Regions from separate parts of the Homo sapiens genome. Here region 1 is reported to be linked to region 2. Evidence: microRNA targets listed by miRTarBase, many of them from high-throughput screens and not tested one by one. Region 2 holds a microRNA gene; the other region holds the end of a gene's coding sequence.

Evidence for each region. Region 2 holds the annotated microRNA hsa-miR-3131 (UCGAGGACUGGUGGAAGGGCCUU, at 2,821-2,843, opposite strand). A microRNA usually pairs through its seed, bases 2 to 8, with sites in the 3' UTR of a target mRNA and lowers its output. Matches are read on the target gene's strand: a 7mer-m8 pairs with bases 2 to 8, a 7mer-A1 pairs with bases 2 to 7 and ends in A, and an 8mer does both.
Region 1: miRTarBase lists GDI1 as a target of hsa-miR-3131. Seed matches in the 3' UTR shown: 7mer-A1 at 916-922.

Annotation. Positions count from the first base shown.
Region 1 is chrX:154,441,802-154,447,158 of GRCh38, forward strand. GDI1 (GDP dissociation inhibitor 1) reads left to right here. Exons shown (of 11, transcript NM_001493.3): 9 at 310-454; 10 at 573-627; 11 at 719-1,666. The coding sequence ends at 871. FAM50A (family with sequence similarity 50 member A) reads left to right here and starts at 2,340. Exons shown (of 13, transcript NM_004699.4): 1 at 2,340-2,545; 2 at 3,832-3,916; 3 at 4,011-4,110; 4 at 4,614-4,759. The coding sequence starts at 2,435. RefSeq lists enhancers at 1,967-2,534, 3,102-3,669 and silencers at 2,168-2,517, 2,528-2,737, 2,748-2,837.
Region 2 is chr2:219,055,905-219,061,261 of GRCh38, forward strand. MIR3131 (microRNA 3131) reads right to left here and starts at 2,846; the gene lies at 2,784-2,846. It overlaps IHH (Indian hedgehog signaling molecule), which reads right to left and starts at 5,017. Exons shown (of 3, transcript NM_002181.4): 1 at 4,249-5,017; 2 at 1,529-1,790. The coding sequence starts at 4,563.

The DNA.
Region 1 (5,357 bases), not on the chromosome of region 2:
GGGCGCTGGTACAGCTTCCTCTAGGGTGTTCTCTTTGGGGTTACTCTTTTTCTCCCCATCAGTGTGGGAGCTCCCTGCCTTACCTCTCTGGAAAAAAATTTGAGCCACATTGTAGCCACCACAACTTGGAGCCCTAGGGTTTGGGTGGCCTGGACTCTTTCCCTCTGGGAGGGTGGCGGCTTGGATGCTACCTGCTCTGCGGGGCTGGGGAGGGGCAGTCGGGCCAGACTTGTGTCCAGCCACTGGAACCCCTCTCTGCGTATGGCCAGCGCCTCTGGCCTGAGTTGACGGAGCTCTTCCTGTGGCCAGACATCTACGTGTGCATGATCTCCTATGCACACAACGTGGCGGCCCAGGGCAAGTACATAGCTATTGCCAGCACTACTGTGGAGACCACGGACCCTGAAAAGGAGGTGGAGCCGGCTCTGGAGCTGTTGGAGCCCATTGACCAGAAGTGAGGGACTGGGCTGAGCCCAAGGGGGAGAGGGAGGGAGCCCAGCAGCTGGGCTTAGGGACCAGGAAGGGCATGGCCCATTGTGAGGCCTGTCCCCTCCCCTCTGTCTGCCCCTCAGGTTTGTGGCTATCAGTGACTTGTATGAGCCCATTGATGATGGTTGTGAGAGCCAGGTAAGCAGCTCGTCCCAGCCCTGGGCTCCTGGCTGCCCGCCCAGGATACCTGTCTGACTCACCCTGGGCGCTGGGCTCTGGCTGTTTCCAGGTGTTCTGTTCCTGCTCCTACGATGCCACCACACACTTTGAGACAACCTGCAACGACATCAAAGACATCTACAAACGCATGGCTGGCACGGCCTTTGACTTTGAGAACATGAAGCGCAAACAGAACGACGTCTTTGGAGAAGCTGAGCAGTGATTGTGGCCGCCCCCAGCCCCTGCTGCCCCAGCCTGTGTCTGTTCTCCTCGAGGGCTCCAGCATCCTCTGCTTCCCCCACCACGTTCCCATCACCCACCTCATTGATCCACTGACCAAATCCTTAACCCTAGCGATGGCTTGGGAGATGGGGGGTTGGATAGCATCCTCTTTCTTGGCCCTTCCTTATCCTAGGAAAAGAGGGTTCCTCTCCTTGTGTGTGTCTCTTCCCCCCACCCCTAATTCTTCTGCTCTGTTTGGGAAGACGTGGAGGAAAAGGTGACTTCTGCCCCCACCGCTCTTACCCCCACTGTAGTGGCCTTTGGAGATGCCCCCACCTCCCCCCCACCAACTCTCGCGTGTTGGAGAGAAGGGGCCCTCCCAGCACAAAGTTGCATTCCTCCCCCCTAATTTATTCTAATTTATTAACTTTGACCCACCCTTTCTGAGCCTGCAGCCTTCCCGTGTGGCCTGAGGGCTGTCGAGTGAGCTGCCCCAGCCCCTCCCAGCCCTTGCCCAGCCTGGGGGAGTGGGGAAGGCTTGGGCATGGCCCCGTTGGAGGTTGATTTGCTGTTTTGTTTCTTGTCTTTGTGTTCTGTGGTACTTGCTGAGAGAAAAGAAAAGTGAGCCAAGCAGAAGGAGGTGGGAAAACGGACCCAAACCCCAGTGTGCCCTGCCCCATGCCTTTCCTTTAGTGGTGGGAAACCCTTATCTTGCAAAGTGAATGTGTCCCCTTCCCCACCCTCTAGTGTATTTCACAGAAAACAAAACCTCCCAATAAAACGGTTGAAACCTGAATCTCTGGATCTTGATGGTTATCTCCCAAAAGCTGGGTACCTGGCAGGGCTTTGGCTGCCTGGGTTGGGGCTCTGGCTTAGCTTCACTCTGGACTGTAAAAGGTGGCATTCTTCACCAGGGAATTCCTCACCCAGAGCACGCTGGGGCCAAATTGACTTAAAGCTTAAGGCTACCCAGTGAGTCGATGCTGGCACCAGGACTGCAGCCCTCAGTGCTCAATGCAGGGGGAGTGTGGTGGAGGGCGGGTGTCAACGTGGAGGAAGCAGAGGGAGCGGGGGTCCTGGCCTCTGGCTTGAAAGGAGAGGGCAGAGGGGACCAGGGGCCAGCCTCGGATGGGATTCTAAGTGAAGCAGGGAGACGGGTGCCAGTTTTCGGCTTAATGCGGGGGAACTAGGGCAGCCAGGGGACCAGCGTTGGGGTCACCAGGAGGAATTAGAGGGACCGGGGCCCAGCCTTGGCTCGGGTTAACGTCGAGGCAGCGCGAGGGGCTGGGGAATTCAGCCTCCGGGGTCCACAGGAGCCGGCGGCGGGGGCTGGGGCGGGAGTCCACGCAGGACCAGGGGCGGTCTCCGGCGGGGCGGGGCGGGCGGTGGTCACGCTCCGGGCCAGCTGGCGCGCGGCGGGGCGGGGCATCCGTGCGTCTCCTGGTGGCTGACGTCACGGCGCGGGCGTCAGCTGACTGTTCGGCCGCCACCGCCGCTGCCGCTGCCGCTGTCGCTGTCGCCGCCGCCGCCGCCCGCCGCCGCCGCCGCCGCCGCCGCCGCTGCCATGGCTCAATACAAGGGCGCCGCGAGCGAGGCCGGCCGCGCCATGCACCTGATGAAGAAGCGGGAGAAGCAGCGCGAGCAGATGGAGCAGATGAAGCAGCGCATCGCGGAGGTGCGAGCCGGGGAGCCTCGGAGCATGCGCGCTGCCCAGGTCCCCGGCGGCCCCGCGCCACGCTCCGGCCCTGGAAGCCCTGGGGCGGTGGCCACGGAGCGCGGGCGGCGCGCCGGGGCAGGCCCCTGGCTCGCTGACTTCCAGCAGGGCACACAGAAGCAAGCCAGCGACAGTCTCATCTGTGAAATGGGCCTGGAGCCGGGCGTTCTCCGAGGCTGAGGCCACTAGCTGATGACCGGCCTCCGGCAGGAGGGAGCCGAGCCAGTGTTTCTGTTGGGAGGCACGGCGGGGACGGGCCTCTCGTCGCCTCGCCTGGGCACCCAGCGTCCTGGCTCTGGCCCCTCGGCCCTCAGAGCCAGGCCTCTGCCCCCTCGGCCCTCAGAGCCAGGCCTCTGCCCTGGTCCTATGGACACCGGGCAGGGCGGTTCGTCTCCCCCTGGAGAGGCGGGGAGGCCTGAGCCAGACCTGGCAAGTCCACTGGCCAGGAGGCTCCTTCCAGAACCCCTTGCACCTGTGAGGCAGGCACGACCCTCCCGGGTGCCAGCGGTTCACCCACTGCTTCCGTGAGTGGCCTGTGATGGTGGTGGTCAGGGAAGGAGCGTGGAGGAGCTTGATCCTTTTGGGGAGACTCACTCATCAGGACTCGGGGCTCCAGGGGAGAGCAGGCTCCTGCCTGGGGAACTGGGGAAGCCTGGCCAGAGGAGCCTTGAAACACCAAGTCCTCATGCCCTGGCCGCACTGTCTGAGCCGGGGTGCCCAGCAAGCAGAAGGTGTATTTCTCTGCCAGCCACCTTCTTGGGAGACCACTGGTCAGCGAGGGCTTGACATGGTACCAAGTGGGTTGGGGCTGGGGCCAAAGAGAGGCCTCCTGGGAAGCTGTTGATGACATTCTGGGGCCTGGAGGGAGGAAAATCACTCAGGGAGGGGCCAGGCCCCTCAACCACTCTGTTCTTGTTTGCCCTCTCCTCATAACCCTTGGCTTGGGTCTCGGAAGCTTCAGCTTAAAGGCTGGAGATGAAAAAGGCCAAAGGTCAGTAGGGTCGGTGGCTTCAGGCTACTGAGGGACCTGTGATCCCCAGCAGGAGACCTGAAGAGCCAGAGCAGCTCAGGGATGGAAACAGCCCCATTTGGCACTCTTAGCATTTGAAGAGCCCTGCCCAGCCTCATGGAACCTTCCATCGACAAGGGCACAGGGGCAGATTTGGACTATAACGCAGGTCCTTGATGGCCAGCCTGCCATTTCCACAGTGAGGGGTGGTTCTCATGGTGGCTGTCACTCCCCGCAGGAGAACATCATGAAATCCAACATTGACAAGAAGTTCTCTGCGCACTACGACGCGGTGGAGGCAGAGCTCAAGTCCAGCACCGTGGGTGAGCAGGGTGCGGGTGCCCCTCACCCGGGCCCCGGGCCACTCTTCCGCTGGCCCTGCGACTACCTTGCCCCTTGTGCCTCCTTGCTTCAAAGGTCTCGTGACCCTGAATGACATGAAGGCCAAGCAGGAGGCTCTGGTGAAGGAGCGGGAGAAGCAGCTGGCCAAGAAGGAGCAGTCCAAGGAGCTGCAGATGTGGGTCCTCTCGCCGCAGCCCTCAACATGGAGCTAGTGCTTACGGGGTCCCGTGGCTGGTCGGGCTCTTTTTGCACCCTGGGGGGGACCCTGTCTCCAGCTTTGGGACAGGGGTAGCATCTAGCTTGCGATTTGCATTTCTCTCTCCCGCCTCCTCGGGTCCACGCTCACGTCTTTTCACCATGGCGGCTTGTCTTCTTTCTGACCCTCTAAATGCAGTGGGCCCTTTCCCAGCATCCGGTGCCTGAGCAGCCTGCGTTCTCCCCATTGCCAGCCTGTGCTTGGCTCTCCCCTGTGGCCCTCTGTGCTTGCTGTTTGTAACAGAGCCCTCGCCCATGAGCTCAAAGTGATCCAGGACAGCAGGACCCGTCTGGGGCAATGGGGACCCAGCCTGGGCTGGGCAGGCCCCACATAGGGCACACAGGTGGCTCTGGGTCAAGGAAGGGGCTGGGTCAGGGTCGGGAAGGACATGATGTGTGATGGGGCCACCTGCACCTCACTAGGAAGCTGGAGAAGCTTCGAGAGAAGGAGCGTAAGAAGGAAGCCAAGCGGAAGATCTCCAGCCTGTCCTTCACCCTGGAGGAGGAAGAAGAGGGAGGCGAGGAGGAAGAGGAGGCGGCCATGTATGAGGAGGAGATGGAAAGGGAAGGTGAGGGCTGGCTTGAGTCGGAGCCCCGCCCGCAGCCCCTGGGGAGGGGTCCCCAATGTGAGAGGCTGTCAGCAAAGCTGATGCCCTGTCAAGATGGCTCCAAAAGCTGCCCTCTTGAGGCACCGCGCACAGTAGACCGGGGAGGGAAGAGGCTGGTCTAGACCAGGCTGGCTGGGCACATTTTCTGTGATGATGGAAATGTTAGAGTCTGTGCCACCCAATATGGTAGCCACTTGCCCCAGGTGCCTCGTATGACTGGGGCACTAAATGGTGAATTCTGTTTGATTTGTTTCAGCGTAAATGTATACAGCCACAGAAATTCCGAGGCTACTAGTCAGACACTGCAGGTCTCAGCTGTGAGAACAAGGGGCTGTCAGGGAAAGCTCAGGATGGCTGGGGAGTGAGGGTAAAGCCAGCCTGGCCTCCACGTGTGCCACACACCTGTGCTGTGCCTGGCCAGGGCACATAGGGTGCTGTCCCTCTCCTGGTGGAAGTCACGGGTCACCATGCACTGAAGACACTACTCAGGGTTACTGCTCTGCTTGGGGCCCACCGGGCTAACCCAGGGGTCAAGGAAGGAGGGGAGGGTTGAGTTAGG
Region 2 (5,357 bases):
GCTCAGCCTCCTGGTCACAACGACCCTCCCTTGGCCACCCCAGCCAGCCAGAGCTCCTCTTGCTCCCAGAGAGCCCCCGTCACCATATCCCAGCTCCTGCCCCCCACTTCCTATGCAGGCTTGAACCCATACTTCACTGCCCCCATCCCCTTACTCCAATGTGATCTTCTGTGACCCCCCTCCCCAGCCTAATACCTTGCCAAGGAGCATAGTGGGGCTCCAAGACCCAGTGGATGAGAAGGAAAGGGCTACCTCATGGAAGGGGGAGGTTGCTTAGCTCCTCCGAGGCCTAGATGTTCTGTTATTTCTCACCCCTTGCTCAGACACTTCCCAAAAATTGCCCTCTCAGGCTGACTCCCCAGGTTCTGTAACAGAGCTGGACCTTTGAATGTAGGGATGTGAGAGGAGCCCACCCAGTGGGGCAAAGGCAGACTCCTGGGCAGCCTCGGAGTGAATGTTTGGGTCAGGGGCAGGCCAGGGGCGAGGACACAGTCACCATCTTCAGTTCACATGCTGAGTCCCTGTGCAGGGACAGAACACTGCGGCATCAGCAGGTGAGCTGGAGAACAGTGTTTGGGGGTCAGGAGTAATGAATGGAAGTGGTTGTCGTGGGTCAATGTTTGCAGTGAAGGGTGGATGGGCCTTGCAGTAGACACAGTTGGCAGGGGAAGTATTGAGTGGAAGGTTCAGGGTGTGGTTGTGGGTCAGGGTAGGGTCAGGAATATCAAAATGTGGGCCTGGGCTCAGTGTGCGGGTCTATGAGAGTGCAACTATTACACGCTGCCAGTGTGAAAGGCTGAGCCGGCAGCCAGGTGGGGCTTGGCTGGGAGCCACACAGGAACCATTTGGAGCCTCCATGGCTGGGTTCAGTGTAGGTGACAGGGTGCTGACAAGACTTGAGGGAGGGGTGAGGCCCCAGTGCCTGCCAATTCTGATCAACAATGCGGCCAATCTGGGAAAATCCACTTTATTGAGTCCACTTTGTTTAGTCTGGCTCTCCTGGCTGGCTTTGCCCCAAAATGTCCAGCTTCAGGGCACAGGGGGAGAGGTTGGGGACGCCTGCGCCCCAGGGAGGGCTGACCTGCAGCTGGGTGGTGGGTTCTGAGCCTCTGGGCTCCTGGTCAGGCATGCAGGTGTCTGGGCATACCCCGGCTCCTGGCCCCACCACCCGCCTTGTTCTGTGCCAGGTGGGGTGGGGAGGCCTTGTCTGGCAGCCTGGCTTCCTCCATCTGTCCAGCTTGCTCTGTCTTGCACCTCCTGTGGCAGGCTCTGGACTGTGGGCCACCAGGTCAGCACCCAGCAGCCCTGGGACAGGGCCCTATCGCCCTAGGCTCCTACCATGACACTGCCAGGCATGGGATGAGCAGGCAGTCACGGTCAGGAGCAGCCTTGGAGAGCGCCGCTGATGTCCTCTTCCCCCGGATCCCTGCCTCCATCCCCGGGCGGGCTCTTCACCTTCTCGGCACTACTCCTCCTGCCCATGCCCTGCGGCCCCGGCCCCGGGCCCAGCCCCCCGGCGGCGGCTCACCGGACTTGACGGAGCAATGCACGTGGGCCTTTGACTCGTAATACACCCAGTCAAAGCCGGCCTCCACTGCCAAGCGCGCCAGCAGTCCATACTTATTGCGGTCGCGGTCTGATGTGGTGATGTCCACCGCGCGGCCCTCATAATGCAGGGACTCCTCTGAGTGGTGGCCGTCCTCGTCCCAGCCCTCGGTCACCCGCAGCTTCACACCGGGCCACTGGTTCATCACCGAGATAGCCAGCGAGTTCAGGCGGTCCTTGCAGCGCTGGGAGAGGAATGTGCGCGAAATCAACCAGAGCGAAATCAGCCGGAGGAGCCGGCCGAGGTGCAGGTGTAGGCGCAGCCTCGCCCAGAACTCTCCCGCCACACCCAAGGGAGCTGGAAGCCCGGGAGGGTGCTGTCCCTCTCCCTTAGGAACAGAGGGCCCTGAAGTGCTCCCTCCCTAGCATACAGCCGCCCCCGGGGATCTGGACCGCACGGCGGTATCACAAATCTGGAGGAGGCATGGAGGCAAGCGCCCTGGCGGCGCCTTCACTGGTAGGTGGAGGTCCCCTCTCTCCTGTGCTGTCTTCAGCTCCGGGTATCCATCCCTCCACAGACAGGACTACACCTTTCAGCGCCCGGTCCCTCTGTGCCTCCAAGGCAGGAGGGCCAGCCAGCGGCCGGGAGGGAGGAGTGGCAGCAGAGCCGACTGCCTGCGGCCGGCCTGCGAGGCGTGCAAGGCCCGAGGTGCCCAGTAGGTGTCACCGCAGCCTCAGGGCTGAGGCCTGGGGACGACAGGCTCTGGAGGCGCGGCAGGTGCAGAGCGTCTCGGTAGCTTCAGGGGGTGTGTTGGAGGGGAATCGCCGGCCTGCCTGGATCCCTCGAGCACCACCGAGGATTCCCGCCGGGACCCTCTTATAATCTTAAACCGGCCCACAACCCCGCCAGAGATGACAGGGCCAGGGAACCAGAAACCGGCGGATTAGCGCCAGGGCCGCCCAATGGGGGGCCACATGCAACGTCTTCCTCTGCAAGGCGCAAAAGGGGCTGACAATCCCAGACCTCCAGGACCTCTGCACCGGTGCCCCGCCCCTATACCGTAGGAAGGAACTCCATAAACCAAGCTTCTGATCTCAGGGAGCCAGCTCCACCATCCTCCTCACGTGGAGTTGGGGTAGAGCCGCGCCCTGGGGGAAGGACCGAAGCGGTCATCCTTGGTTGCTGCCTCCTGGTGTGCCTGGGTCCTGAGAGCCCAAGAGACTGTGCAGCTGACTCTGAGAAGAAGCTGGGGCCAGGGCCTTGGTCTGAGGGGAAAGGCCCTTCCACCAGTCCTCGACTCTGAGACTCTGAGATTCGAGGCGCCAACAAGTGTGGGCAGCCCAAGTCTCAACCTACCCCCACCCTGCAGAGCCCGGGCCTCACAGACCCTTGGACTCAGCCTTCCTAGGAGCCAATAGCAGCTACAACCCAGGGCCTCGCAGGTCCTCGCTGGTGCACAGCCTGGCTGGGGGTGCTTACTGCCCAGGGAGGGAGCTCCGCTTGCTCCTTCGTAGACCCTGCCGTCAGGCTTCTAGCCCCGCACCTATGCCCGCCTGCAGCCCTGGTTCCCCGCCTCTCTCCCTCACTGCCACCGCCCCCTCTCGGGTCCAGAGCCCGGGCGTGCGCTGTCAATGATTGCCCAGCCCGTGGCCCGGATCCTTATCTGCATTCCTCGGCGCCCGGCCCGGCCCGGCCACCAGCCAACCTTCGGCCCCGACACTGGCCGGCCAGCCCCGGCGCCAGGGTGCATGCTGAGGGCCCTGAGTCTAGCTGCTCTTCCCAACGGATCTAGAAAGCCAGGGGCCTGCTTTCAGGGGGAAGCCTCGGGAGACCCCGAAGGAAGGGGGTGAAGGTCTCTCCCCTCGCGGACCTGGCTGCTGGGAAGGAATTTGCGCCTCTAAGCTTGGGTGGAGCGCGGGTCCTACTCCAGCATGCAGAGACTAGCGTCAGCCCTGGTCCCTGCCTCCCTCGGCATCTCAGCCCCTCTTTTCCACTCCTTCCCGTCCCCACCACCAAGCCCAGGAATCCCCTAAGCTCAGTCCCAGAGCCCGAAGGCCCCAATAACCCACCCTTCCACCGCAGTAGCACCCCTCAGCTCTCCGGACAGACACGTGGGCTCGCTGGGCAGGTTCCTTTTCCCACCTCCGCCTCCCGATTCAACTCTTCCTCGCTGTTCTTAACCCCAGACCCAGCCGGGACGCTGCTCCTGGAAGGGGCAGCCCGTAGAACCAAGAGCGCACAGGGAGGAAAGGCCGTGGTGACCCTACGCACCCAGAGATTCTTTGCCTCAGGGGTGCCGAAAAGTTTCAAAATGAAAGGGGCACAGCTGTGCAGAAGGTTAGGCCGGGAGGGACTGCGTGGGTCCTGGAGGCGCAGGAGGCAGCCGGGTAGAGGTACCTCCGGGTGCAGCGTCTGGCTGAGCTGCCAGTACTTTGGGGCAGAGGAGCCGCCGCCAACCTGCTGGGCTGTGGGGCTTGGCAGCGGGGAGCTCTTCTAGCAGTCTCCTCCGGGCTTGGGGATGCCGACACTCCTGCCTGGACCCCTGGCCAGCCCATCTTGGGCAGGAGGCAGCGGGGCTTGGCGAGAGGGGCAGGTGCCAGGGAGCGTGCCAGCCAGTCGAGAAAATGTGCCAGGGGGTGGGTAGGGCCGGGCAGGTGGCCGTGCTTCGGTGGCGGCGCGCTGGTAGGGCGGATCGCGCTCACCTGGGTCATGAGGCGGTCGGCGCCTGTGTTCTCCTCGTCCTTGAAGATGATGTCTGGATTGTAATTGGGGGTGAGCTCCTTGAAGCGCTCGGAGCTGCGAGCGATCTTGCCTTCATAGCGTCCGCTGGCGCCCAGGGTCTTCTCGGGCACATTGGGGCTGAACTGCTTGTAGGCGAGCGGCACGAGTTTGCGTGGCGGTCGCCGGCGGCTGCCCACCACCCGACCCGGCCCGCAGCCCCATGCCGCCGGCACCACCAGCAGCAGCAACAGGACCAGGCAGAAGTGCAGTCGGGGCCGGAGCCGGGCGGGAGACATGGCCGGGGAGCCCGGGGGAGCGGCGGGCGAGGTCTCCTGGTGGGCTGATGGGCAGGCGCGTCGACGGGAGCGCTGCGGGGGCTCAGGCGTCCGGGTGGCTCCGGGGGGCTCCAGGCGGGGGCGCCATGGGCGGCGTGGTGCGGCCAGGGCCGGCGGGACTCAAGTGCGGGGCGGGGGCCCAGGGCCCGAGCTGGTGGCGGCGCGCTGTCCCCCTCGGCGCCTCGACTCTGAGCTGCCGGGCTCGCCGGCCGCCAATAAATAGGCCGGCCCGTTTGTTTTGGCAACGCGGCGGCGGCGGGGGGCGGCGGGCGGCGGGGCTGCGGGCCGCCGGGCTGGGCTGGGCTGGCCGGGCCGGCGGGCTGCAGGGCCCCGCGGTTAGCACCCCGGCCCGGCGGTCAGGCGGCTCGGGCGGAGCGGGAGCTGCTGCCGTCTGCGGCGCAGCCCGGGGCCGAGTGAGAGGGGAAATGGAAGAGATCCGGGCTCGGGCCCCGCGCAGACCGCACCCTACCCATGTCCCTGCCTCCTGTGCGCTCGACAGCGAACCTGCAGCAAGGGCAGCACAGCCTCCTCCCCCTCGGGCGGGCGGCCCCGGCACTAGCCAGCCCTCGTCCCGCTCGCGCCTCCGCCGCGCGTCCGCCCGCCCGCTGCCCTCTGCGCCCCCTGCGCTGCCCGAGTTTGCCCTCCCCGCCTGGACGCGCCCCACCCCGCCCTGGCCTCGCCTACCGGCTCTTCGCGGCTCTGGGGTGCCCCGCCAGGCGCAAACCTCCCGGACAGGAGCTGCCACCCCCACGGAG